4 linked regions of the Homo sapiens genome follow. Each later gene encodes a partner of the first gene's protein in a complex. Each region holds a gene or a part of one and is shown in the gene's direction. Other genes may lie near its edges.

The links.
Region 2: PHLDB2 (region 1) and PPFIBP1 share a complex: the UniProt entries of both Homo sapiens proteins name them as parts of the cortical microtubule stabilization complex.
Region 3: PHLDB2 (region 1) and ERC1 share a complex: the UniProt entries of both Homo sapiens proteins name them as parts of the cortical microtubule stabilization complex.
Region 4: PHLDB2 (region 1) and PPFIA1 share a complex: the UniProt entries of both Homo sapiens proteins name them as parts of the cortical microtubule stabilization complex.

What each region holds. Positions count from the first base shown.
Region 1 is NC_000003.12:111,854,323-111,862,280, forward strand, and holds the start of PHLDB2 (pleckstrin homology-like domain family B member 2), read left to right. Parts: upstream 1-4,942; 5' UTR 4,943-5,254; intron 5,255-5,504; exon of another isoform or gene 5,505-5,556; intron 5,557-6,337; exon of another isoform or gene 6,338-6,494; intron 6,495-7,958. UniProt on the Homo sapiens protein: Seems to be involved in the assembly of the postsynaptic apparatus. May play a role in acetyl-choline receptor (AChR) aggregation in the postsynaptic membrane.
Region 2 is NC_000012.12:27,519,286-27,527,229, forward strand, and holds the start of PPFIBP1 (liprin-beta-1), read left to right. Parts: upstream 1-4,920; 5' UTR 4,921-5,080; intron 5,081-7,944. UniProt on the Homo sapiens protein: May regulate the disassembly of focal adhesions. Did not bind receptor-like tyrosine phosphatases type 2A.
Region 3 is NC_000012.12:1,491,222-1,496,456, forward strand, and holds the end of ERC1 (ELKS/Rab6-interacting/CAST family member 1), read left to right. Parts: 3' UTR 1-4,710; downstream 4,711-5,235. UniProt on the Homo sapiens protein: Regulatory subunit of the IKK complex. Probably recruits IkappaBalpha/NFKBIA to the complex. May be involved in the organization of the cytomatrix at the nerve terminals active zone (CAZ) which regulates neurotransmitter release.
Region 4 is NC_000011.10:70,273,682-70,280,707, forward strand, and holds part of PPFIA1 (liprin-alpha-1), read left to right. Parts: intron 1-4,933; exon of another isoform or gene 4,934-5,722; intron 5,723-7,026. UniProt on the Homo sapiens protein: May regulate the disassembly of focal adhesions. May localize receptor-like tyrosine phosphatases type 2A at specific sites on the plasma membrane, possibly regulating their interaction with the extracellular environment and their association with substrates.

The sequences.
Region 1 (7,958 bases):
AAACCATATTAGCTAGCAAAGGGGCTGAATCAGGGCTTAAAACCCAGTTCTGCCTTACTTCACAGTCAATGATTTTTCCACTGCACTTTGCAAGTAGAAACTTCTTGATTCATTAAATCATCATAATATTAAAGCGAACTTCAGCACAAACAATTGTTCCATGAGTTAAACTGCAGTAAGATTGAAATGAGTTAATAGCTACAAAGATTTGTTAGGCTATCATTGCAGAGAAAGGAGCAAATATACAGATTCAGGACATAAAAAGTTAATCAAATCCAACCGATCTTTTCTAATAAAAGAGAACAATAGCAAAAATAATTACAAATGGAATAACATAAATAATTCATAATATCACTGTATGTGTTTCAAAGTGAGCAGGTATGTACAAACCTACTCCCAAAGACCACAGAAGCTGAAAAGCCAAAGAAAGAGGCTGACAAGTCCAGTTTCTCAGAAAGAAACATTTAATAGAGACTTATGAACAGAAGCCATGTCCCCAGTGGCTGTGAAAAAAGATGGTGCATCTCCACGCTGTCACTCCCAGAGTCAAGACACATAAACTAAAGGAAAAGAATGTGTAGGAGAATTGAAGTCGACCCCTTGGGGAGAGGCAAGAATGCTCTGTGAATCTGCCCATGGGCAGGATTTATGGTCAAGGTTGTTTTGACCCAGGGGCAGGATTTAAGGTATCAGTAGATAAAGTACAAATCTTAGAGTAATTCCCAGAACTCGGGTTAATCAGAAGTCAACAGGTAATCTTCCATGGAATTAGGGTAAAAAGAAAAAAAAAAGTCAGCATGGCAGATTAGCATCCAAGATAGAGTTGCTTTAGCCTCAACACTGTGCAACACTTTAAGGTTCCCCACCTGAGAGGGTGAAGGACACAGGAAAGTAAGATCAGGGACTGTAACCACTACAGATCCTGGAGAGGCAAACAAGAAAGGTCTGCTGTTTAGTTTACAACACAATATCTCTAGTGATAAGGAATGGCAGAGCGCAGGCAGGACTCTGGTCTGTGATTAAACAGAAAACTTTATTATAAAGAACCCAGGAAATAGAAAAGGTAGAAAGACTCTCTCTTTCTTCCTTCCTTCCTTCCTTTCTTTCTTTCTCTCTCTCCCCCTCCCGCGCTTCCCTCTTTTTCCTTCCTTCCTTCCTCCCTTCTTTGCTTCCTTCCTTCTTTTCTTTCCTTTCTTTCTTCTTTCTTTCCATCACCATTACTAAAAGAAAGTCTGGTAATATAATAATAACAATAACAGTTGCACTTTATTGAGTGCTTTCTATAGATGTTGAGGTCTGCATTTGTCTTTTTTTTTTTTTTTTTTTTTTTTGGCGACAAGGTCTCACTCTGCCACCCAGGCTGGAGTGCAATGGTGCGATCATGGATCACCCAGCCTCGAATTCTCAGGTGATTCTCCCACCTCAGCCTCCTGAGTAGCTGGGACTACAGATGGTGCACCACCATGCCCGGCTAATATTTTTGTATTTTTAGTAGAGACGGGTTTTGCCATGTTGGCCAGGCTGCTCTGGAACTTCTAATCTCAAGCAATCCTGCTACCTCGGCTCCCAAGGTGTTGGGATTACAGGCATGAGCCATTGAGCCTGGACTGAATTTATCTAATTTAAGACTTGCACCTTCAGGGTGGTCTCGTCTATCTTCAGGCTGCTATGGCCTTATGAAAGCTATTGAAAACCACTCTAACTCATCAGGAATGGGAAACTTTGCTGGGTTTAGTCACTTGAAAAAGTCACATTCAATGACTACTTTTTGAGTCCCTTCCATATATAAGTCTTGGAGTATGATTCATACAAATATGAATAAAATGACTCCCTTTGCCTTCTAGGAGCTTGGCTATCCTAAGAGATAGAGATGCTAGCAGATAAAACAAGGCAGTGAAGGGAGGCCAGTGAGGATTACTTTTTGTCTAGTAATTTGGAATTATTCATTATACAGAAATATCCCCTAGTAACATTCATACTTAGAAAAGAGGTAGAAGGTAGCATTAAAGACAATGAACTCAAGAACAAGTGCTCAAATTCTGCCTCTACCAACTTATTACCTGAGTGACAACTGACTTCTCTGTGATTCCTTTTTTACTTATAAAATGGGAGTAGTAACAAACAGTAACTCTCACCGCATCAACTAATATTGTCCTATATTTGGAAGAATACCGGATACGTATACAATAGTAATTATTGCTCTCAATAAATTTAGCTATTTTTTTCTTAGACATAAATATTGGCAATCTAATTATGGCCATTCTAAATGTGCTGTGTTGGTGCACATTCTCCTTAGACCTGAAGGGAGAAAGGTTGTCTCTAAGATGTCTGTGTAGTCAAGTGTATTTCTGGCATTGCTCGAGGCAAGGAAATGTTTGCAACACAGTGCTTTGGGTCAAAGCCATCATTTATTCTTGAGCACCATTTACATGTCCGGTATCCTTGTAGGCACACTAGGGATATAGCACTGGAGAGAACAGGCAAAACTCTCTGCCTGCCTGCCTTACATTCTAGTGAGGAGAGACAGACAATAAACATAATTTAAAAAGTACATTTTACAATATAGTAGAATGTGGTGACTTTGTCAAAAAGTAAATTTAAGTAGTATGGAAAACACATTTTAAACTTTTAAGTAGAGTGGTCAGAGCAGGCCTGAGCAACACGGTGACATTGAACAGGGTCTTGAAGGAAGTGAGGGAGTGAACCATGCAGATACTTGGGAGGAGGGAATTATAGGCAGAGAGGGCAATTAGAACAAAGGCCCTGAGATAGAACGGATTTACCTAGGAATCTAGTCTACGAGGCCACTGTGGCAGGGGCTAAGTGAGTGATAAAGGGGAAGTAGGAGGCTGGGCACAGTGGCTCACACCTGTCATCCCAACACTTAGGGTGGCGGAGGCAGACAGATCGCTTGAGCCCAGGAGTTCAAGAACAGTCTGGGCAATGTGGTGAAACCCCATCTCTGCAAAAAATTCAATATTAGCTGGGCATGGTGGTCTGCACCTGTGGTCCCAGCTATTCAGGAGGCTGAAGTGGGAGGATCACTTGAGCCCAGGAGGTTAAGGCTGCAGTGAGCTATGACTGTGCCATTGCACTCCAACCTGGGTGACAAAGTGAGGCCCTGTCTCAAAAAAAAAAAAAAGAAAAGAAAAGAAAAAAAAATTCCAAGGTAATGGAAATAAAATGATTGTATGTTTATGGGGATGATCCAAAAAAGAGGAGGAAAGAGATGACGTGGGTGAGAAAAGAACATTGCTGGAGCACTTAACTGTTTAACTGTTGGATTGATCAGTGTATGTATGCTTCTGCAGGGCAAAAACTCAGGACAGGGAAAAGAATTCCTCTAAAAAACCCGGCATTCCTAACAAACATATGAAAAAAAGCTCATCATCACTAGTCATTACAGAAATGCAAATCAAAACCACAACGAGATACCATCTCACGCCAGTTAGAATGGCAATCATTAAAAAGTCAGGAAATAACAGACGCTGCAGAGAATGTGGAGAAATGGGAACGCTTTTACACTGTTGGTGGGAGTATAAGTTAGTTCAACCATTGTGGAAGACAGTGTGGCGATTCCTCAGGGATCTAGAACTAGAAATACCATTTGACCCAGCAATCCCATTACTGGGTATATACCCAAAGAATTATAAATCATTCTACTATAAAGACACATACAAACGTATGTTTATTGCAGCACTGTTCACAATAACAAAGACTTGGAACCAACCCAAGTGCCCATCAATGATAGACTGGATGAAGAAAATGTGGCACATATACACCATGGAATACCATGCAGCCATAAAAAAGAATGAATTCATGTCCTTTGCAGGGACGTGGATGATGCTGGAAACCATCATTCTCAGCAAACTAACACAGGAACAGAAAACCAAACACTGCATGTTCTCATCATAAGTGGGAGTTGAACAATGAGAACATATGGACCCAGGGAGGGGAACATCACACCCTGAGGCCTGTTGGGGGGTGGGGGACAAGGGGAGGGAGAGCATTAGGACAAATAACTAATGCATGCGGAGCTTAAAACCTAGATGAAGGGTTGATGGGTGCTGCAAACCACCATGGCACATGTATACCTGTGTAACAAACCTGCACGTTCTGCACATGTATCCCAGAACTTAAAGTATAATTAAAAAAGAAATTTAAAAAAGACATTCCGTAGGTGAGGCTCTCCCTAAAAGTCAAACTTTTACTTGCACATATGAAAAGTGTAATCATTAAATAAGCTATTTCTTCAGTGACGGTATACTGAGTTCTGCTCATGGTGCCAAGTACTTTGCATATATTATTCAGAAGCTTATTAGCTGCCCTGCAGCACCAGTATCATTTATTGCTGCACTCCAGGTGAAGAAATTGTTGCTGGGAGCTACAACAACTTGCCCAAAGCCACAATGATCATAAGTAGTTTGCGCTTCGTTGTGCTCTTCTTTGCTGGTGTGAGATTCTCGAGGGCCAATGTCCTTCATCTGCGTAACTCTAGGGACTCGCCCAGACCTTGGAAGAGGTTCACATTCCCGCGTGCCGAGATTGATTATGGGCCACCCTCGGTCTCATTCGTTGACTTCCAATAAAGCATTGGCTGGTGGACCTCTACATCAGCATTGTTTTCATTGGATATAGCAACTCAGAAAAATATTGGGGAAAATATAAAAACTTTCAAGAGATATGATTGCAAGAAAATCAGAATGAGTTTAAAACCCTCCTGACCCCAGTCCTTAGCTCAGGCCGTTCTCCAAGGATTTTGCAAACCTGCTTTCTGACGCAGCTGGTAAACTTGCCCCGGGGCGAACTGTCGGAAGGAGGTGCGGTCACCTGGAGTTTCCCAATAGATACTTCGCTGTCTGGTGAGGAAATCATCACCCTAGGACGTAAACCCTCCCGCCCTTCTTTCAGCTCTTAAAAAAAGCCTGCCACGAAAGTCCCTACTGCGTTGCTGCGAACGTAGCTTTGAGAAGCTGGCGCCCAGTGATGGGGCAAACAGCCATGCCCTTCCAGCAGCCGTGAAAGCCCCAACAGCAAACTGCCTGGGAGCGGGGCAGGTCACCAACTTCGTTGCTCGAACTCCCTGGGTGCCCGCCGCGGTGGTTACAAAGGGGGTCAAGAGTGCCGGACCCAGCCGCGCGGAGCCCACCATTGCGGCCCGAGGGGGACCCGACGGGGGCCCGACGGTGTGGCGTGGCGCAAGGAGCGCGCCTGCCTTCTCTCGCCGCCGGGAACGGGCTGCACCAATGGCCAGGTGAGGAGGCGGCGGTGGTCGCCCGGGAGGAGGGGGTGGTGCCGACTCCGTGTGCCAGGAGTGCGTCCCGGGGACGCTGCCTCCCCCGCGGCCGAGTTGGTTGCCGCCGGTTGCGCTGCGGAGGGTTGGGGGCGGAGAGGAGGCAGTGGCTGCCCGGGCCGAGGAGGGGCGCGCTGACTGCTCACCGCGAGTCAGGAGGGGCCGGCGGGCTCACGGAGGGAGACAGGGTGGGCGGGGGCAAAGGCTAGGCGCTAGGGCGGCGGCGCCAGCGTAGAGCGGCGGTTTGGAGGAAAGATGAGACGGTGAGTGGGCTCCGGGGACACAGAGTTTCTTTGCTTCTTTACAGGCTGTAGGGACAAAAGCCCGGGCTGGGGTCGGCAGTGCCCAGGCTGCGCAGCTGGGTGGGTGGGGGTGGCGAACCCCGTTGTGCATGACTCTCGGGGGGCTGGGTAGATCTCCGGTTGAGGGGATCCCGGGGAGGGAGTGTCTGGTAGGGAAGATGCTTCCAGAGTGATTGTAGAAAACAGGCAGAATGTGGGGGAACTGGGGGCAACTTTTTCCAGCAACTCTGGAATGCACATGGAGAGAGGGATGGGGATCCTTGGGATAGCTCCCTGAGAAAGAGAAGGTCCGCTGCTGGATGGTGTAGGGCGCGGGATTCAGAGAAGACTCCCTCCCCGCAAATATTTGGCTAGCTGCGCTTCTAGTTCCACTTTCTTTCAAGAGTGAACCTACGAGCTTTAACCGCCAAAAGCGGCTGATTTCGATTTGGCCTTTGACCCCCCACTGAAAGTTTACAGTGTGGCCGTCTCGGCACCCCTAGAGATAGCAGCTGGAAGGCTTGGGGAGTATTTTAACCCTCTGTTTCTCCAGCTCCCTGCGCGGCGGAGGCGCAGCTGAATCGTTTGCTGGTTCGCTTAATAACTTAGCCCTAGCAGTCATCACTTATTAAAGCGCCGAGGACCTGGCTAACTCCCGCCACCACCAGGAAATTAAAAGGCTGACAGGCTGTCCCTCCCAGGGTTGGGGTTTCCTGTTTGAAAGAGCTTGAGAAGTCAAACTGCTTCGCGGTTCCTCACTTACCTTTCTTATGTAAAAGAGGGAGCGACGCCCGCAGCTTTTTCTCTCGGTAAACTACCCGTGGCTGGAAATCCTCCGGGCGCCTGGCCCTGCCCTCTTCCCTAGAAATCTTTATCCTGCAACTCTGAAGTAGCTCTAAAGAGCTCTAGAATGCACAACTAGTCATAGCCAGGCACAGCTGGGAGTGTAACTAGACGAGGCATAAAAATGTGGAGTCTTTTTAGTGTAAATATTTGTCAGCCACATTTCCCTTCGTAATATGAACGTGTAAGTTACAGATGTAGGTTTTCAAGTATTGGACGTGTAATTTTAAGCTTCCTAGTTTGGTTTAATTTGGGCGTTCGAGATATGTCTCTGGGATTCTAACGTTTGAATTCGGCTGGGAGAGATCTAAATGAGGTCCACAGTTTCAGAAGGTTAAACTTTTGCCCTGTGAACACTTGAATTCTTGGTTCCTGGTAGGTTAGCAACAGAACTGTCGGATTTGGGATAAATAAACCGTTAGAGTTGCCCACTATTTTAACAGAATGGCTATATCTCTCTTGCCGTTGCCTTCAATTGTGTAAATATTTGTTTGAATAAAGAGCGAAGGTTCTTTGAAAAGTAACAGTTCTGTCTATTCTTGGCTCCCCTTTCATATCCTCTGCTTAGTTATTTAAAAGGATTTTCTTTGCCTCTTACATTTAATGGGGAAATTTAAACATTACATGTACTTAAATTCTGTAAAGTTACCAAACCATTTATAACTGGCAAATTATTTAATGACAAGGAAGAGTTGAGTTTGTCGTCTTAGTTGGCTAATGTAGCCTTCATCTCTTGAGACCCAGAGGTTTGCAGATCTCAGCCTGTCAGAAGTGGAAAAATGAGATGTCTGGTTAAGAGTAGTCATCATTTCAGTCAATTTGCAGGCCTCAATCTGTTTTATGCAGCTGGCAGCTGCTGTTCTTTTGGTGTTGAGATCGTCTGCCACGAGTGTCGCCTGGATCCCTGTTTGAAAAGGGGAGGAAAAGATACTTGGGAAATTGGACTGAGAGCTTGCTTACTCCTCCGTTCAATAACTGTGACCAAGCTGAAACTCGTTAGCAACCTTTCCAGAAACGTTTTATTTACCATGTGTGTTTGTTGTGTATGCAAGAGAGGAAAAAATAAGCCAAAGTGATTAACCAATCTCTGGTTTTCCCTATTTTCTTCAAAGCTCCATTTTGAGATCTATAAGCAAGGGTTGACTCTCGAGTTCATTGGAGAAGTTACCTCGGCTCACTACAACTTCTGCCTCCTTGGTTCAAGCCATTTTCCTGCCTCAGCCTCCCGAGTAGCTGGGATTACAGGCGCCTGCCACCACACCTGGCTAATTTTTCTATTTTTAGTAGTGACAGGATTTTGCCATGTTGGTCAGGCTGGTCTCAAACTCTTAACCTCAGGTGATCCACCTGCCTTGGCCTCCCAAAGTACTGGGATTACAGGCATGAGCCACCACACCCGGTCTCCTTTTAAATATTTTTAAAGGAGTAGTTAACGTTATGGCTTTATATCCTGATTTTCAACCCTTAGCAGGGAGGCAGTGCTATGGTGCTGTGGATGGCTTAGAGTGACAGTGGCTTTGTACATTTTCTAGGTGGAGTAC
Region 2 (7,944 bases), on another chromosome or scaffold:
AGATGAAATAAATTAGCATTCTGTTCTTGAGGACTGTAAGAAACTTGGAGCCAGAAAGGAACATAAGGCACCTATAAAAATTATAGTACAATTGTTTTATGTTGTAGGAAAAAGGAAAATATGTTTGCTTATCACCTATGATGTGTCAGGCAAGGTGCTCTGTCATCTTGCATATGACATCTTGTCAGATCCTTGCAACAACACTGTGAGGTAGATTTTTGTAGAAACAGGCAAAAATCACAGTGAGGATGTATTATTAGGAAATATGGGTGCAAAGTCATGCAGTGCATGCAGTGTGGGCATATGAAGAAGAGTCGAAAATAAGTTCAGAAAGGTAAGTTGGGGGCAAGGATGTGAAGGCTTTTGGACACCAGTCAAGAAAGTTTGATGAGTTTTGTTCCTTGGTAAAGGGAGACTCATTTAAGTGTTTAGAGTCAGGAGTGATCAGGGTTGTGCTTTAGAGAGCTGCAGCTGGAAGCCTGTAAAGACCAGACAGGCAAATGCTGTGGATTTGATGAGTAGGGTGAGCCTCTTCTGGTACCTGCATCCAAAGAAAGGGAGGTGTCCTCAAGCCTGCTCAGATTTGGGGATGGTGTAACTAAAGAGTCAGCTTGTTCTGTTACTGCAAAGGGCAGAAGTGAGAGTGTAAATTGTGGACAATCAATGCTTCAGACACAGAAAGACAAAATAGGTTTGGAATCAAATAGACCTTGGTTTCAATCCCAGTTCTGGGGGAATCTGGAGCAATTTACTTGTATAACCCTGGAGAGTGATTCCTCATGTCAAAATGATGCTAATAACACTTACCTTACAGGATGTTTGTGAGGATTAAATGAGACACAAGACAGATGTCTTTGGGGAGAAAGTCAGTAAAGCAGGATCCAGATGGATATGAGAAAGATCCCTTTTTTTTTTTTTTTGAGATGGAGTTTTGCTCTTGTTGCCCAGGCTGGAGTGCAATGGTGCGATCTCGGCTCACCGCAACCTCAGCCTCCCAGGTTCAAGCAATTCTCCCACCTCAGCCTCCCGAGTAGCTGGGATTACAGGCATGCGCCATCACGCCTGGCGAATTTTTTTTCTATTTTTAGTAGAGACGGGGTTTCTCCATGTTGGTCAGGCTGGTCTCGAACTCCTGACCTCAGGTGATCCGCCCACCTCGGCCTCCCAAAGTGCTGGGATTACAAGCGTGAGCCACCACGCCCAACCGAGAAAGATCTTTAATGGTGGGCTGCTTGCTTATTTTGTGTGTTACTGGTTGCCAGATAAGTTCAAGCAGGGGTTGGAAGCTACCTGTAAGGAATGCTGAAGAAGGGTTTCTTGCATTTTAATAGTGGTTGCATCAAATGACTTTTAGGATCCATTTCAAGTTCTAATTGAGCAGGTGTTCTCCTGCTCTGCAGTGTCTCTTGCTCCCTACCCCGCAATAGTGATACTCTTTGGCAAAAAGTTACCAAAGGTAAGGTTAGTCATAGGAATAACTAGGCAGAAAATATCTAGACCTACAGAATAAATTAGCGTTGAAATCATAGGAATCATAAATGATCATTTGCACTAAGCCAGCCAGGAGCCGGGATAGTGAGGAGTAAGTTCTGGCTACCTGCTCATCAGGCATCCTGTCTTGCTTCTGCTGCACTATCCTGATTTTTTTGGAGTTTCCCCAAGACACCCAGAGGCCAGTGATTTCAGTATGTTTATTTAAGGGTTACACTGTCTTCAAAAAATGAAGTATCATGGTGAAGCCTAAATGTAGAGCAGATAAAAGAGCTGTAACTCTGGTTAAAGGGAGGTAGAAGGAGGCTGAAATCTCAACCATTGGTTCCTCCCTCACCCACTCTGTAACCTCTAGCTTGAATGTTACTGCTCCAGACCTGGCCCGTTTTCAGCCTTCCCTTTGAGTCTTTTGTTTTCTGGATTCTGGATGGCAGCTGTTATCACTCCAGCTGCAGAAAGGATGGGAGGCGACTTCCTGTTTTTCTATCCTGCCATCTCTGTGGGGGTGGGACATTCCCTCCCCCATCTCCTGTGGCTGGCTGTAGTTTTGGAAAAATGTGAGCCTGGCTGCAGCCGTCCTGACTAGGGCTGGAGGAATGGCTGGTAGCCACCCAGCCTCCGTTTGAAGGCATCTGGGAGCAAGGCAGGCAACAGACACTGATGGACAAGTTGTGTCCCTGACTGTGGGACAGGGAAGGGTCAGTAGTTAATTAAGAGACAGGTGAAGTAGTTGGTCCAGAAGTGATCTGAGGAAGTTAAGGGTGTTGAACGAACGGTGGGTAGGGGTGTGGGAGAACAGAAGGGCTCTGGCCCTTCTGGCATAAAAAGAGAGAAAGAGAGAGGAAAAAAAGAACAAGAAGAAACAGTTAAAGTTTTTGTCTGAGAGATTATTTGGGGATAGACTGCATTTAAAGAATGGAAGAGAATAGAAATGATACAATGATCTATTTTCTCATGCCCTATATTTTTATTGAGCCTTTTCCTTGAATTGGGTATAAGGAATATAAAGAGGTCCTATAAGCAAGATGCTTGCTCTTCAGAGTTTGGGAAGGCAGGAAAGGCATTTAACTGGACATGTATAACCACATGTTTACACATCTGTACAATCTCAATCCTTATAACAACCTTTAACATAGGTATTGTCAGCCCTATTTTAAAGAGGAGGTAACTGAGATTCGGGATGGATGTTTTAGTGACTTGCCCAAAGTTACCCAATAGCTAAGTGGCAGAGCCAGGCCAAGAACCTTGAGTCCTTTTCTCTGTCCACTGTAACACACAGCTAAGTCTTGGCAGAGGACAAGGACTTTAATTTAATTAGGCTTTGAGAGAAGGGTGGGACTTAACCCACAGAGGAGTGGGGATTTCGGTTAGGCTGAAAGGTGAGAACGAAGCAGGGATCTGTGAGTAGACCTGTTTGACTACAGAGAGGGTTTCCTGGGAGCGAAGTGGGAGATAAGCTGGGAAAGGTAAGAAGCAGGATAAGAGAGAGTTTTAAATGGCTAGATAAGAATTGCAGGGAAAGGGGGACCTGATTTAGAGGGGAAGATGTTGATGACAAAACCAAACATTTTAGAAAACTCATCGGTAGTGAGTGGTACAGAGAAATAATTAGAACTGGGGGAAACTGGAGTCAGAAATTCAAGTCAGGAGTTTGGAATACTGCAGGTCTGACAAGCAACAAGATGGTAATTATATAAAGTAGGTCTGTGAGAGCAGTGGCCCAAGCCTGTGGATTTCTTGTAGCATTCTATTGTTTGAAAAAGTATAAATTATGGACACTCAATACTTGAGATATAGAAAGAAAATCAATGGCTTTGGAGTCAAATAGACCTCGGTTTCAATCCAAGTTCTAGCTGATTTGGAGAAATTTACTTACATAACTTTGCTGAGCCTTTGATTCCTTACGTTAAAATAGGGCTAGTAACACTCAATTTACAGGATGATTGAGAAGATTAAACAAGACACAATGCTGGATTCTGTGCATCCCTCTACAATTTTTGGCAGATCGGTAAATGTATGGCATGTCATCAATCAAAAAACAATGAGGCCTGGTGTGGTGGCTCACGCCTGTAATCCCAGCAGTTTGGGAGGCCGAAGAGGGTGGATCACCTGAGGTCAGGATTTCGAGACCAGTCTGGCCAATATGGCGGAAACCCCGTCTCTACTGAAAATACAAAAATCAGCCGGGTGTGGTGGTGGGCGCCTGTAGTCTCAGCTACTCGGAGGCTGAGGCAGTAGAATCACTTGAACCCAGGAGAAGGAGGTTGCAGTGAGCCAGATCATGCCACTGCACTCCAGCCTGGGTGGCAGAGTGACCTGTTTAAAAAAAGAAGAAAAAAAAGAGAAAGTTATTAATTCACTATATTTTTAGAAGATGGTGGGTTATATGCTACCTATATCTCATACAAATAAAGCTGCTTTTCACCATTCAGGTCTGCCTGTAAGCAGCATCTGCCTTGAAAGAACCATTTTCTGAGAATCTTTTTCTTCTGTCAGCCAAGGGGATTATACCGCATGATATCTGTCAAGGATAAACGTTAGTTAATTCTTAATTGAGAGCTCAGCCACTACAATTGGTTCCATTCTACAGTAATTATTCTCATGTGGTTTGTGGAACTCAATTGTGAGGTCCCTCCTTCCTCCACCCTTTTCAGTGTGTGCATTGAAACAGCAGCCTTAAGGTCTTTAAACGGGGAAATACATTTTTCTTGCTTCAGAGATTCAATTTTACTTGCCCGAGAAGCTTGTGTGGTGTGATTTTCATCGCTAAAAGCAACAGCAGCCACATGGCTGACAACACCACCACTTAACAATTCAAAGCTCGGTCACCGTTTTCAGGAGTCTCTTCCAAATCTTTCTGAAGTGCTTTTGAAGTTCTACATTCCCCGTCTAAGGGAACACCCAGCAGTCCCAGGATAAAAGGGCAGAAGGGTGAGCTGACGTTTTCCTTTATTTGCATGGCTTAAAGCTAGCCATTTTCTACACCACGCGCCGCCGGGCTTGTACATGCCCGTGTGCCTGTGACACCGAGGCAATTGTTTCTCCTTAAAAAGGGGGTTCGCGTGGGTTAGTTTCGTTTCTGATCTGGAATCTCAGTAACTACAACAAGAAAAGTTTAAAACTCGACCCGCCAGGTTCTTCCCCATCGGATTATCTCCGTTCCTTAGAGATAGCAGGAAGGGCAGCATTTTCTTCCATCCACCCACTTCCAGCCCTAGTCTGGCTCAGCGAGGAATGCATAAAATTAGTGGACTCCTCTGAGTGACGTTCCCCGGCTCCAATCAGCGGGCGCGCAGGCGCCCCCGGCCCCGCCCCACTGCTGACTCTCTTTGGCTGATTCCTGCAGGGAGGGAGGAGAGAAGGGCGGCAGTGGGAGGGGGAGGTACCTGGAACTGGGAGTGATGTCAGCTCCCAGCTCGGTGCCTGCCCGGATTCCTGACATGGTGTAGTGCAGGCAGGGTGGGGAAAGGACGGGGAAGGACTCGTGTGCTGCGAGCTGGCGGCCGGGCCGGAGTGCTGGGGCTTTGAACTCCGAGAGGAGGTGGACCAGAACTTTTGGAACTAGTGCCGGCGGCTCTCCACCCCCCAGGTAAGGGCGTTTTGCTCCACTCCCAGACGGGAGGGAAGTGGCACCGTTGTGTGGCTGCAGCTGGCTGTTGCAGCTGCTCCTCCTCTTCCCCGGGTCGATTTCCTTGTGCAACTCACTCCTGTTTCCCAATGGGAACGGGCACTTTTTGGGGGTGGTGGGGGTGGAGGGGTAGGGCTTAACTCCTGGGGCTTGGACCGAGCTTGTACGTGAAGAATACTCCAGGATTGGACGTTTAGGTCTTGTCTGTATCCTTAGACCCCCACACCCTAGGCTCCCGGTAATACCTGAGAACCCCAACCAGAGGGGCGTGTGTGTCTCTCTGTCTGTGTGTATTGAGGCATTTAAAAATGCCACAAAAAATTATGGATCATCGACTCAAAAATTATGCTCGTTGAAAAGAAAAAAAAAGTTTTGTATTTTTTTGTCTCCTTGTGGCCTATTATATATTAAAAGAATATCAATGTTAGTCTTATATATCAATGTAAAATATCCTTTTGTGTAATCCAGTCAGGATGTGAGAAATTCACTTGGGGTGTTTATTAATTATGAGCTTGCGGGAAAACTCGTCTCTTGGGGGCACACTTCTAAAACTGCAACTAGTATTCACTCATTTTAACCGAGAAATCCCTTCAGCTGCCAGCTTTATATCTGGAGAGGTTAGGATGGCTGCTGAGAATCTTCAGATCTGTTTCCTGTGGCTGCTTGAGGGGCGAGCTGGTAGTTGTGTTTTCAGGGATCTTTTTTAGAGAAGGGAGTTTTAACAGGGAAACGCGGTGGAAGGCGTGGCATATAAACTCTTAATTATAGGGACGTGAAGTTTTCAACATGTGGGACCAAAACAAATCCTTGCTTTCAGTAAGAACTGCGGAGAGCAATAGAAAAAGAACTTGATTTCAAAGTCCAAGTTTGGTATTTTGAGAAAGCAATTGCGGGAGGAAAAAGATACTTTTAAGAAGTGAAAGAATAGAATTCTGATTTTTGTTTATTTCCTATTTCAAACCCTGTCTTTTTCCTATGTGGAGATTTTGTGTGCCCAGGTCACTAACTGGGTGTGATTGACTTTCTCGAGGGGGCGGGGAAATTGACTCCATACACCGATTCAGGACCCTCTCATCAGTGCTTTAAGGCTCTCTTTTGGAGCAGGAAGGAAAAAAAAAAAAAAAAAAAAAAAGTAAGCGCTGAGACTCCTGAGTCAAGTTTCCCCTTTCCTTCACCGAAGTTCCTCCTCAGCAGTGAGGATCCTACTGTTGCCAGGTCTGGAGGAAATGGGAGTGGACTTCATTGTGAGTCAAAATCCGTATCCCAGGCCCCTGAAGGGAAAAGGCATTTCCAGGAGATGGAGAAAGAAAGAAGCCACAACAGTAGGTCTAGTAAACCCAAGTCAGGAAAAGGGATAGAGGACTATAGATGGGGTTCTCTATCTTTCTAGCCAAATGATCATTAGGTTTCAGAACTAGAAAGAAGTGTTTGGTTGTGCTGTTGTTTATGACATACCTGGGTCTGTATTGTTGTTAGTTCCTGAAAAAATTAAATAGAGTGGATAAAATAGCAGGCTTTTTGAGAAAGGAAAATTCGCTTTATTGGAAAGACAACATTTTAATTTTGGTTTGTATTTTGGCTTAAGACACAGAAATTGCAAATGGCTCTGCAATAATGGTGAACAAGTCTTTTCTATTTATGTTCTATGGGGAGTACATAAAACATACTGTATTTTCCAGTGTACTTTTTCAGTAGGATAGAGCTGTGGAGTGGAGTTCCTGTGGGCTAATGTGAACTCACGGTAGTGTTCCTTGGCTGATAGTGTTCCAACTGCATTTGTAATACCAAAAGATGGGGCTGCAAAAGCCAGACGGTTCAGTAAAGAAGAGTATCTTTAGGATGTTATCCTTATGTGCCAAATTCAGATTTACACTTTCTTTCCAAGAAACTAGTCCTAGTTTAGGGACTTGAATATACCAAAACTCTAAATTTGATTCACAGTTTGAATAATAGCAGTAATTTTACATACTTAATTTAAACCAATATTTCTCTTTCTCAGTCCATGTTTATGAGGCAGATATGGTGTAGGAAAACACGGAATACTTAAAAGATGTTTGAGTTATTGAGAAAGGTAGGATCAGTTTTTGGTTAAATTCCTGTGACCAACAACTGTCATATTTCCAAGAGCAACTTTAAAAATTAAGGTCGGCCAGGCTTGGTGGCTCACACCTGTAATCCAAGCACTTTAGGAGGCTGAGGCACGCAGATCACCTGAGGTCAGGAGTTGGAGACCAGCCTGGCTAACATGGTGAAACCCCATTTCTACTAAAAATACAAAAAAATTGCCGGGTGTGGTGGTGGGCACCTGTAATCTCAGCTACTTGGGAGGCTGAGGCAGGAGAATCGCTTGAACCCAGGAGGCGGAGGTTGCAGTGAGCTGAGATCTCGTTATTGCACTCCAGCCTGGGCGACTAGAGCAAAACTCCATCTCAAAAATAAATAAATAAAATAAAAATTAAGGTCATCTGGCCTTAATGGATAAATGTTGATTTGAAATCCAGGACACACTGAAGTTCCAGATCAATAGTGCCTAATTTCAAGGGCATCACTGACATTTTTTTGGGAACAAGTTCACCGAGGGACAGTTAATTAACTGTTTATGTAGTCTTTTTGTAGCTCCCTGTTCCACCGTGAGATAAATCAGAACAAGGTCATTTTTCCCCTCAGTTACTGACTAGCTGACTTCTTTTAAAACCTTTCCTATTCATAAAATATTTGTATAAGTAAATTTAGATTATGTTGATAATTTGTTACATTAAAATTAACTTTTCGTTTATATCCCAAACCAGCATAATTTTCAAACTGTTAACTGAAAGAAGACCTCA
Region 3 (5,235 bases), on another chromosome or scaffold:
CCCGTGTCCTGAGCTCCTGCAGCCCAGTGGCTGCTGAAGTTGTGATCCCTCACTCACCCTGCTAGCTTTGCCCTTGACTCGTCTTCTCTGAACCTCAGCCTCGTGCATTGCCTGGAACCTTCTTCTAGCATAAATGAAGGTTTTTCCTCCTACACACATTCCTTCCTCGGTTATTTCATTCAGAGAATATTTATGAAATGCCTACTGTGTGCAAGTCATCCATCCTTGAAAAGGCCACTTCTCAGTGAGGGAGAGATGTAGTGGATTCTGTGAGACATACCTGCTGGAGTTGAAGCAGTAAATAGCATGTCCTTCCCCTCCCCGATCTTAAGGTGTGTTTTCTAGAAAAGTTCCCTAATGGAATTCATGAGTTTGGGGGTCTCAGTCACCCGCTTGCCTGTAGGATTCCATTTGATGATTCTGGATTTTTGCTGTTTGTTATTGCCCTTAGAGGGGCTCTGAGTATCTACTTGTGGGTGGCCATTTCCTGACATCTGCATGTACCTCGTGGAATTCAGCCAGCTTCATGTTGCAAATCAGAAAGCTGACCCCAAGACTGCAAATCAATGAAGGTATTGGCATTGTTAAGGACGTAGCGTAGACAACAGCAGTCATAAATAATTAGGCAGGAACTTAACCCAAATCTAGTTCTTTGACCACCTCTACCACCAGAACCCAGCAGACACTCACATCTCCTGATAAGAGTTGCTGGACTCGATGTTTTTGTTTTGCATTTTCTCCTCTCCTTCCCCACTTACTCAGAGAATTTAAAGTCTGTAGAGTCAGCACAGCCCCATCAGTCCAGGAACTTCCCACCACCAGCCCTTGACTGTCCCATTAACTGACATGGTCAGATTTCCAGCTCCCCCTACTCCCTGCTGTGAAACAATCCCTCTCCCTGTGAGAGGAAACTGTGGAGCGTTTCTTATCGAAGGTTAAATGGACTCTGCTCATAAACCTCTTACTGAGATGCTTCCTGATAGCCAGGCTGGCCAGAGAGGGGTGCAGGGGTTAGATAGTAAGTGGTGGTCGTTTGTGGTCAGTTACCTCAATTCTGTTCATTGCAGTGCCCGTAAACCATGTAGAAAGCTCCCAGCACTGAAAGGCAGGAGTGTTAGCATCTCGCTTTATCCACCATAACGTAAAGAACTGCGGTGTGATAACAGCCTTCACGGGGCCACGGTGGAACCAAGACAGCAGGCGAGGCCATGCCTAAACAAGTGGTCTGGCACGGGCACTGGCCAGCTGCTCTCTCCAAGCAGGTGGCCCAGATCCCACCCACGTGGACTTTCTCATCAGGTGCAGCGCCTGCCACTCTCAGCCACTGGGTGTGTCACTCTCCTCTTCATCTCAGCATTCTCCATCACTTCCCCTCCAGAAAAACGGATGGAAGGAAGCCCTCTGTGACACTGCTTCTGAGAAGAAGCATTTCCGGGACCGATATCATCTGTCTGGTCTCTGTGAACAGCAAGGAATCTTCTTGACCGTTCTTGGGCACTGGAGGCTGGCTAGGAGTTCAGTAATAAACGTGGCCTTCGTGCTGTAGGGCAGAGTGGATGCAGTTTGTAGCTTTCAGAGTGTCTCATTGAGTCTAGATCATTGAACCAACACTTAACCAAATGTCCCACTCCCATCACACTAGGACTTGTCATTCCATGCCCCTCTCCTAGTGGTCATGGTTTCATATGGGCATACAACTGCTACTGAAGTTATATAGCCTTGAAAACTCAGTGCAGGTTGCCCTTAATTTTCCCCAAACCCCTCCATCGGCAAGTCTAGTTGCCCTTTAGCACCTAAAGATCTGCACCCCAAACCAATGTCACCATAAAGAGGGCACGAAGAAGAGTGGGTGTGATCCCAACGGGGTTTTGTAACTGAAGAAGCCCAGTGTGAGCTTCTCATCTTTTCATATACCTCTAACCCCCGGTACTCATTGAATCATTGATGAGGTATCTCAATTGAGATTTGCAAGGACTTTGATACCATTTGAAATGGAAAAATTTTGAACGGGCTTTAACATGTTTAAGAAATATGGATGGGGCCGGCCACAGTGGCTCACGCCTGTAATCCCAGAACTCTGGAAGGCTGAGGCAGGCGGATCACCTGAGATCAGGAGTTCGAGGCCAGCCTGGCCAAGATGGCAAAAACCCCGACTCTACTAAAAATACAAAATTAGCCAGGCGTGGTGGCGTACGCCTGTAATCCCAGCTACTCAGGAGGCAGGAGAATCGCTTGAGCCTGGGAGGCAGAGGCTGCGGTGAGCCGAGATCGTGTCACTGCACTCCAGCCTGGGTGACAGAGACTCCATTTAAAAAAAAAAAAAAAAAATATATATATATATATATATATATATATATGGATGGGAATCACCAAATTCATCTCAGCTCTAACCTTTTAACCTTTGTCCTTGCACTTTACAATCTAAAGATCTACCTGTGGCTCTCAGACTTCCTCACACTTGGGTTTTAGAAATAACTTGTAAAGCAGACTGGACCCAAGGCCGCCTTCAGTGTCAAGAAGGGCATTGTGACTTGCCCCTCAATTTCTGTCCATTGAAGTCTGGTTTTCCATGAGGAACTTGCGGGCTCACCCACCCCCAGAGTGAGAGAAGAGGAAGGCGAAGTCATCACAGACACGGTCTTAGCCACCTGCTGAACTAATCCCTCCGCTATTGAGGGTCAGGGTTGTGAGGCAACCATCATGTGTCACCCCAAAATATAAATGTTTCTGAGCCGCCCATCCACTGGCATTTGGATTTGCTGCCAGAGTCCTGTTCCTCCCAGAACCATCCCGCCCTCCTGTTGACCATGTTACTTGAGTGTAGGCCCGGTGTCAAGACCCTCAGAGTCTTTGAGGAAAGAGCCAAGCAGAGAAGACCGCTGCGTGGAGTGTGACACCACATGGCATTTCTCAAGCCCAGCGGACCCTGTGTCAGCAAATACCAGTAATTTAACATCTGCTCCTGGCCTCCTCTTCACCTGCCTGGGTTCGGAACTGAGGAGGAAGGATGAGAAGAGACTGCAATGCAGCAGGCACCCTCTGCAGAGTGAGGCCGCCCGTCCATCACTGCCAGCCCTGGGCTGCTCAGGAGGGGACGTGAACCACTCAAAGGAATGTCTTAAAGAGGATCTGGAGTTTCCCCCATGCAAATTAGGGAAGAATTAGGCAAGAAAAGACATACATTACAGGGAAATCCTTCTGAACAAAATGGCTGTCTTCACCTACTCTTCTTGCAAGAAAAGACATACATTACAGGGAAATCCTTCTGAACAAAATGGCTATCTTCACCTACTCTTCAGCAAAAACCGTCTCCAGACTTTTTAGTGTCAAAAATGTAACCAACTGTCTCCTGATTTTTTCCAATGTGTTTGGCAAGTGCTGTGGCCCTGTTGTAGGTACTTCTCCTGACTCTTGGGGGAGAAGTGGTTTTAGGGATTGATTTGGGGGAGCGGGTTTTTGTCCCATCCCACCTCCTCTCTTCTTTCTCTGCTTGTCGATATTGTCTGTGTGATTCAGAGAATTGGGGCAGTTACATTGTGTCTGTTGTTGAGATTATTAAAAGATTAAAACGTAGTTGTAGAAATGAAAAATTAAACAGCTGTGTTTTAAAAATGCAAACCAATATCTTGTTAATAAAGGAATTCAAGCTATGGGGCAGCCACACTCCCCTCCTCCCAGGCTGGCATAGGTGGCCCTGGGCTGGCGGCTTAGGAAGCATGGAGCACACTTAGGGTAGTGCCTGCCTGGGCAAGAGACACCTGCCGAGCAAAAGGAACGAGAATCTGGGGCTCAGAGCCTCGCAGTTGTGCCAGGATTTTCCTATACATGTTCAGGACCTCTGGGTAGAGGTTTCACAGTTTGTGACCCCATAACCACCCTCACCCGACGTGGGTTCTAGCTCAGTGTGCCTAATACTGCATGGTAACCTGGGCTTGACCCTGAAGCCCCTGCCTGGCAGGCCACAGGACCTCTCCTGCCCACTTGGTGCTATCTCTTCCAGTGACCACCCAGCACGGGTGAGCACTGGCCAGCCTGGAGCCTGCAATCCAGGTGGAACAGACTGTCCTCCATGTCAGTTCCTTCTGGCTTCAGGCCCTCAATTATTTCCCTTTGAGCTTTTTTAGACCCTAGATCTCCTAGGCCCAGGCTCTCTCTTGACCCCAGAGAAGCCACTGTCAGGAAAGGAAGTGAACCCTACTGAAGCCAGAGAATTCACCCCGGCCAAAGCAGGCCCTCTGGGTCCAGCCCCTCATTCCACACCACGCCAGTATTGCATCCATCTACTGCAGCTACACATCCTGAGGGCAGCACCACCCACTCTGGCCTGCTGGCCCATCGCAGGACTAGCCCAGGCACCTGCCGGGCATTGCAGGATATCCAGTGGGGCCTGTGACTGCTCCCTGATGCGTCAGAAGAGAAGTGTTGCACTTTAGTGGAGGAGCTGAGGAGCACCTGCCCCCTTGTAGCTTGAGTTCCTTTTGGTAACAGTAGCAGCCTCCATGGTGGTGTCTGGGATGCACGTGCACCCGCTGCCTTCAGCTGTATGTGTGTGTTCCTGCTGGAGTTGTGTTACTGACAGGATAATGACATTACAAAGAAATTGTGTTATATTCAACTTTGCCTTGATAATTATTGTAAACACTTTGTTCATTTTTTCTTTTTTATTCACAAACTAAATCCACCAGGAAATTATAAAGTTATTTAAAAACCGTGCTGTGTCCTTCTTTGAGTGTCACCCAGCTGATCATCCAGGCAAGGTGTGTCCCCAAATGCTAGAAAAGATGGACAAGGTCTGCAGTGCCCAAGAGGCCAACTCCAATGGCAGGCAGCCCGAGGGCCAGGGGTCCCAGGATTTACGGTGGGTGTGGGAGTCATCACAGCCCTGACGGGCATGAGCCTCCTTTCCCTTCCCGCCTGATCTCCGGGTTTGCAGCTTTTAAAGTCAATTCCCGGTTCCCTTTTTCCTTCTTTCTACCCTCAGCCCCGGGCCAGGTTATCCGTATCAGGTCTCACTGTTCCAGAGCTTAGAGTAGGTGCCCAGCGCTGAGGGATGGTGCTGCTGTTGTACCAAGGTAGAAGAGCCAGAAGGGCGGCCACCAAGGGAGGGCTTTGCCCAGGACTGGGACTCAAGCTTCAGCAGGGCGCGTTCTGATGCACTGACTCTGGGGCGTGCAGGCTGGGTCAACAGAAAGTGTGTGTGCCAAGAGTAAAAGGAGCCGAGAAACCCTGTGCTTG
Region 4 (7,026 bases), on another chromosome or scaffold:
TTAGCGCTCTATGTTCCTTTTTTGTTGGATTAAAGAATCATTAAGATTTTTCTTATTTCAATCTTATAAATTACCAAGTTTATTTATGTTGAATTTTATTACTACAATTTTAAAAGAAGTAGCCAATTTATGTTTTACCAGGATTTTATTGTATTTGTAATTTAAGGTACACGTATTGAAGTGTATATCAAATACTAATATACTTAATAAGGTAGGTTTTGGAAAGAATGGGCACACAAGACATGTCAGGGAAGTGACAGGAGTTTTGTACAGTTAGTCGCAGGCTGTGGAGGTTGTCACACACACTGGTGACATGGTTGCTCAGTGATTTGTTTCTGGCACTGCTCAGTGTAGCAGCCTGGGAATGCCTAGTTCAGTGGATAACATGATGATGCCAACGGTTCACGTTACCACCTGAGCACCTGATTCCAGCCTTTCAAAAATGGAAACTATTAAGTAAACTTGTTTTGGACCCTTCCCTTTCCTGGCATCTGGTTCATCTTTGGTGGCTGGTAGTGTGACCAGATAATGAGTCCAGGAAGTGCATTTGTGCTCCTGGCACATTGTGGAGGCAAGTTAGAGTGTACTTAAAAATATACATAACTATAGCATACAGCAGAAAAATTCACAAATCGTAAGTATACATCTCAGTGGACTTTTCACAAAGTTAACACACTTGCATACCACCACCCAGATCAAGAAATGGAACATTATCAGGCTTCCTAGAAGTCCCCTCCTAACTATTCCCAGTAGTTGTCCCCCAGAGCTAACCAAGGTCTTGACCTTTCACCATTGATTACTTTTGCCTGTTCTTGACTTTGTTTAAGTGAAGTAAAATAATCTGTATGTTTTGCTTCTTCATTCTGTCGTCAGCATCATGTTTGTGAGATGCAGCTTGCTCATTCTCACCTGCTCTCTGGTCATCCCGTGCACGAACAGACAGAACTTATTCTTTCTACTGCTCACAGACATTTGGGGTTGTTTCCAGTTTTTACACGTGCTCCCCTAATATTGTTTGTTTTTTGGTGCAGATGTCTATAAACTTTTTTTTTTTTGAGATAGGGTCTCACTCTGTTGCCCAGGCTGGAGTGCAGTGGCATGATCTCGGCTCACTGTAGCCTCCACCTCCCAGGTTGAAGCGATTCTCCTGCCTCAGCCTCCCAAGTAGCTGGGAATACAGGCACGCATCACCACCCTCCGCTAATTTTTGTATTTTTTGTAGAGGTGGGGTTTTACCATGTTGCCCAGGCCGGAGGATATGTGTACACTTCTGTTGGATTTCTACAAAGAAGTGGAATGCAAATGATGGTGTGTGCATTTGTTCAGCCTCAGTAGAGAGTGCCAAAAGTGGTGGTTGTGACAGTTTGTACTACCCCAGCAATGTATGAGAAGTCAGTTGCTCCTATGCTCTTCAGCACTTGGTATTGTTGGGTCTTTACATTTTAGCTGTTCTGGTGGCTGTTAGCTGGTAGGTGGCTCAGTATGGTCTGAATTTGCTGCTCCCTGATGGCCAGGAACATGCAGAGGTAAAGCATCTCTACCTGTGTTCACTGGCCACCTGGATGTCTTTTGTGAAACGGTTATCTTTTGCCCATCTGTTGATTGGGTTGTCTGTTTTGTTTTTTACTGATTTGAAGGAGTTTTCTCTATATTCTGAGTACATATGTGCATGACAGATTGTTTTTAGACTCTTGTGTTTGCCTTTTCACTCTCTCAGTTGTATCTTTTGATACATAGAAGTGTAAAATTTTTAATGTAGCCCAGTTGATCCATCTTTTCAGTAATGTTTAATGCTCTTTGTGTCCTGTTTAAGAAATTTGCTTGGTCAAGTTCATGAGATATTCTACATTGTCTTCTAAAAACTATTTTTTAATCTTCCATCTGAAATTGACTTTGTTTATGGTATGCGATGGGGCCAAGAGTCTCTCTTTCTTTTTTTAAATGGATATCTAGTTGACCTTGCATAATTTCTTAAAAGACTATTCTTTCCCCAGTGTACTACATGCAGTGTCATCTCAGTCCAGTGACTGTAAGTGTGTGGGTCTGTTTCTGGACTCTCTTCTGCTCCTTTGATCTTTTTGTCATCTTTGCACAAATAGCACAATGTCTAAATTCCCATAGATATAGTCTGTCTTGAGATCTGGTAATTTAAGAAAAGGGTACTCACTCGGTTGCCCAGACTAGTCTCCAACTCCTGGTGTCAAGCGATCCTCTCACCTTGGTCTCCCAAAGTGCTGGGATTACCACTGTGAGCCACCACACCTGGCCCTGTAGATATTCTTTATCAAAATGTAAAAATTCTCCTCTTCTTAGTTTGCCAAGAGTTTTTTAAAAACCATGAGCAGGTATTAAATTTCTTAACATGGATTTTCTGCATCTTTTGAGACAGTCATGTGATTTTTCTGTTATGTGGGAATTTAACTGTTTTTGTTTGTTTATTTTTGAGATGGGGTCTTGCTCCATTACCCAGCCCGGAGTGCAGTGGCACCATCATAGCTCGCTGTAGCCTTGAACTCCTGGGCTAAAGTGATCTTCCCACCTCAGCCTCTCAAGTAGTTGGAATTATAGACGCACGCCACTGCGCCTTGCTTTTTTTTTTTTTTTTAATTGCATATTGTTTGTAGCCTGGGGAAGCAACTTCAGGAGCTCCTGAGAAAGAGCACCTCCCTTTTAAAAAAAATTTACAATTGTAGAATAATTCCAACCTGATCTTGATGTATTCTCCTTTTACTGGATTATATTTGGTAGTATTTTGTTTAGGATTATTGCATTTATATTCACGAGAAAGATTGACTTATAATTTCAGTTTCCTTCAGTACCCTTGTTGGGATTTGGTATCAAGGTTATGCTGGTTTCTTAAAACAAGGTGGAATGTATTCCTTCTTTTTCTACTCCCTAGAAGAGTTCCTACGAAATTTGTGTTTTCTTCCTTAAATGTTTGAAATAATTCTTTGGCAAAACCAGCTGGTACAGGGTTTTCCTTGTGAGAAGGAAAAATTTTAGAATTAATTTTATAGGTAGATGTAGGATTTTGAATATTTCTTCATGTGTCTATTTAGATAAAGCATTTTTCCCCGCTAGAGATTTGTTCAGGCCACCCAGACTTTCCAATTTGTAAGTTTAAAGTGGTTTGTAATCCTTATTATCTGCAAGATCTGTAGTGATGTTCCCTTTTAATAATTCTTGATATCAGTAATTCATATATTATCTCTTAATCAGTCTTGTTGGGGGTTTGTCAATTTTGTAAGTTCTTTTAAGGGACCAACTTTCGGCTTTACATTTTTTTCTACTTACATTTGTTTTCTATTGCATTAATTTCTACTTTTTTTTTTTTGCTTTTTTTTTGTTTGATTGAGATATATATATATATATATATATATTTTTTTTTTTCCAGGCACAGTCTCATTGTGTCTCCCAGGGTCAAGTCCTTAGATACTTGAACTGGATTTAACTCCCTCCTACCTTTTGTGTCATTGTTTTATATATTTCAGTTTAATTTATATTTATTTTTAAAAATAGAGACAGCGTCTTGCTGTATTGCCCCAGCTGGTCTTCAACTCCTGGCCTCAGGTGATCCTCCCCCCTTAGCCTCCCAAAACAATGGGATCCAGGCGTGAGCCACTACACGCTTTTAGCTGCATCTTACAAGTTTATGTACTTTAATTTTAGATATACTTTTGCAGTATCATAATTATTTTGTACAGTTAATGTTTATTTAGATTTATCCTCTTAGTTACCATTTTTGTTGCTCTTCATTCTTTATTGTTGTTTCATGTTTCTGCCGGGGATTATATTTCTTGTTTTTTTTTTTTCTTTTTTTCTTTTTTGAGACAGAGTCTCGCTCTGTTGCCCAGGCTGAAGTGCAGTGGCACGATCTTGGCGCACTGCAACCTCCATCTCCCATGTTTGAGCGATTTTCTTGCCTCAGCCTTCTGAGTAGCTGGGACTATAGGCATATGCCACCACATCCGGCTAATTGTTGTATTTTTAGTAGAGACTGGGTTTCACCATGTTGGCCAGGCTGGTCTCAAGCTCCTGACCTCAAGTGATCTGCCTGCTTCAGCCTCCAAAGTGCTGGGATTACAGATGTGAGCCACTGCGCCCAGCCTATATTTCTTTTCCCTGAAGAACTTTCTACGGTATTTCTTTGAGTTCATATCTGTGGATAATGAATTGTCATTTTTGTTTGCCTGAAAATTTTCTATTTTGCCTTTAGTTTTTGTTTTGTTTTGTTTTGTTTTGTTTTTTAAGATGGAGTCTCGCTCTGTCGCCGGTCTGGAGTGCAGTGATGTGATCTTGGCTCACTGCAACCACCGCCTCCCGGGTTCAAGCAATTCTCCTGCCTCAGCCGCCCGAGTAGCTGGAACTACAAGCACGTGCCACCACGCCCAGCTAATTTTTGTATTTTTAGTAGAGAAGGTGTTTCACCATGTTGGCCAGGATGGTCTCTATCTGTTGACCTGGTGATCTGCCCTCGTCAGCCTCCCAAAGTGCTGGGATTACAGGCGTGAGCCACCATGCCTGGCCTTTTTTTTTTTAAATGTGATGTTTCACCATGTTTGCCAGGCTGGGGTCAAACTCATTGGCTCAAGCAGCTGCCTGCCTCAGCCTCCCAAACTGCTGGGATTACAGGTGTGAGCCACTGTGCCCAATTTGCCTTCAGTTTTGAAGGATGATTTTGCTGGGTATAGAATACTGGGATCGTGGTCATTTCCTTGCACCATTTTGTAGCAGCGAATTCATTGTTTTTTTAGCTCGCTTCCTTTTTCTTGACAAGTCAGCTTTTGGTGTTATTGTTGTCCCATTTGAAGTAATACTTCTTTTTATTTTCCCCTCTGGTTGCTTTTTATTTTTATTTTTTGGAGAGGATATGACTTTTACTGAGTTTATCCACCAGAGTGGAAATAATGTTTGTGCAAAACCAAATGTTTGTTACTATAACTCTCCATCACAATTAAAATCCAAACAGTTTTTTGAAAACAGTCAACTCAATCAAAACCCACTACTTCAGAATCAATAGCTTCTTTGAAGCCACAGTAACAAATATGGTTAAGACTTGAATGTAGAAATTTGTTGGTTGGAAAGCTAATTAAACTTCCAACTTGCTCAAGTAGAATTACAGAAAGGCAGAATTGTGTTTTTCACAGAGATATAGTTCACTGGAATCAGCCACACTGGACAGCTGGTAGAGTGTTTAGGGTCCTGAGATAATAAGGAATCCAGGCAGCCTTTAGACAGTCTGCTGTTGTCCTTTCTTCCCAATTAGAGATTTGTGGATGTGTGGAATGACACCTTTACCAGCAATTGTAGACTTGAAGAGAGAGCCCAATTCTTTATCTCCACGAATGGCAAGTTGCAAGTAATGAGGGGTAGTATGCTTTACTGTGAAGTCTTTTGACGCATTTCTTGCCAGTTCAAGTACCTCTGCGGTGAGGTACTCCAGGATGGCTGTGCTATTCACAGCGGCAGTCGCGCCCACACGTCCAGGACTGATTGTCCTAGATTTCAGGTGTCAGTGAATACGGCCCACCAGGAACTGCAAATTGGCTCTCTTGTGAGTGGGAAGCTGCCTTTGTTGGCCTTTCTGGAGTCCTTCCCAGCCTTACTGCCAGCCATTTTCAATTCTGCTGAAGCTCAAACAGGCAAGGCAGAGAAAGGACTAATCAGACACACAGCAAGATCTCACCATCTACTCATTCCTCACACCAGGATTTGAAGCTGCCTCTGGTGGCTTGTAACATTTTCTTTGCTTCAGGCATTAGCAAAACTTGGTATTTGTTGTATTGGTGGCCTGGTTCCTAATCAATTTTGGAAGTTTTGGCTCTTCTCTCTATAAATATTCCTATTTTCCACTCATCTTCACTCAGAGGGCCTCCATTTTTGTGTACATTAGGCATTTTTTTTTTTTTTGAGATGGAGTTTCGCTATTGTTGCCCAAGTTGGAGTGCAATGGTGTGATATACATTAGGCTTTTATCATGTCCTATGTGTCTCTTGTGCTCCTTTCCGTATTTTCTAGACCTTTTCTGTGTATGTGTCTAGGTGTGTGTGTGTGTGTGTGTGTGTGTGTGTGTGTGTGTGTATTTAGTTTTTAGAGACTGGGTCTCTCTGTTGCCCAGGGTGGTCTTGAACTCTTGGGCTCAAGCAGTCTTCCTGCCTTGGCCTCCTAAACTGTTGGGACTACAGGCGTGAGCCACCGTGTCCGGCCTGTGTGTGTGTGGGGGATGTGTGTGTGTGTATATTTTTGGGACAGGGTCTCGCTCTGTTGCCCAGGCTGTAGTGTAGTGGTGCAGTCTCAGCTCACTGCAGCATCTGCCTTCTGGGCTCAAGCGATCCTCCCACCTCAGCTCCTGAGTAGCAGGGACTACAGGTGCGTGCCACCACACCTGGCTAATTTCTGTATTTTCAGTGGAGGTGGGGTTTTGCCATGTTGCACAGACTGGTCTCAAACTCCTGGACTTAAGTGATCCACTTGCCTCAGTCTCCGAAAGTGTTGGGATTACAGGCATGAGCTAGCATGTGTGTATATATGTGTGTATATATATATACGTACATACATATATATATATAAATATATATGTATATAAAAATTTTTAAGAGACAGGTGGCTGGGTGCAGTGGCTCACGCCTGTAATCCCAGCACTTTGGGAGGCCAAGGTGGGTGAATCACTTGAAGTCAGGAGTTCGAGACCAGCCTGGCCAACATGGTGAAACCCTGTCTCTACTAAAAATACAAAAAATAGCCGGGCATGGTGGCACATGCCTGTAATCCCAGCTACTTGGGAGGCTGAGGCAGGAGACTCACTTGAACCTGGGAGACGGAGGTTGCAGTGAGCCAAGATCACGCCATTGCACTCCAGCCTGGGTGGCAAGAGCGAAACTCCGTCTCGGGGAAAAAGAAAAAGACAGGCACCCTGTTGTTGCCGAGGCTGCAGTGCAGTGGCGCGCGTGATCACTGTTCACTGCAGCCTCAAACTCCAGGGCTCAAGCAATCCTTCTGCCTCAGCCTTCTGAGTAGCTGGGACTA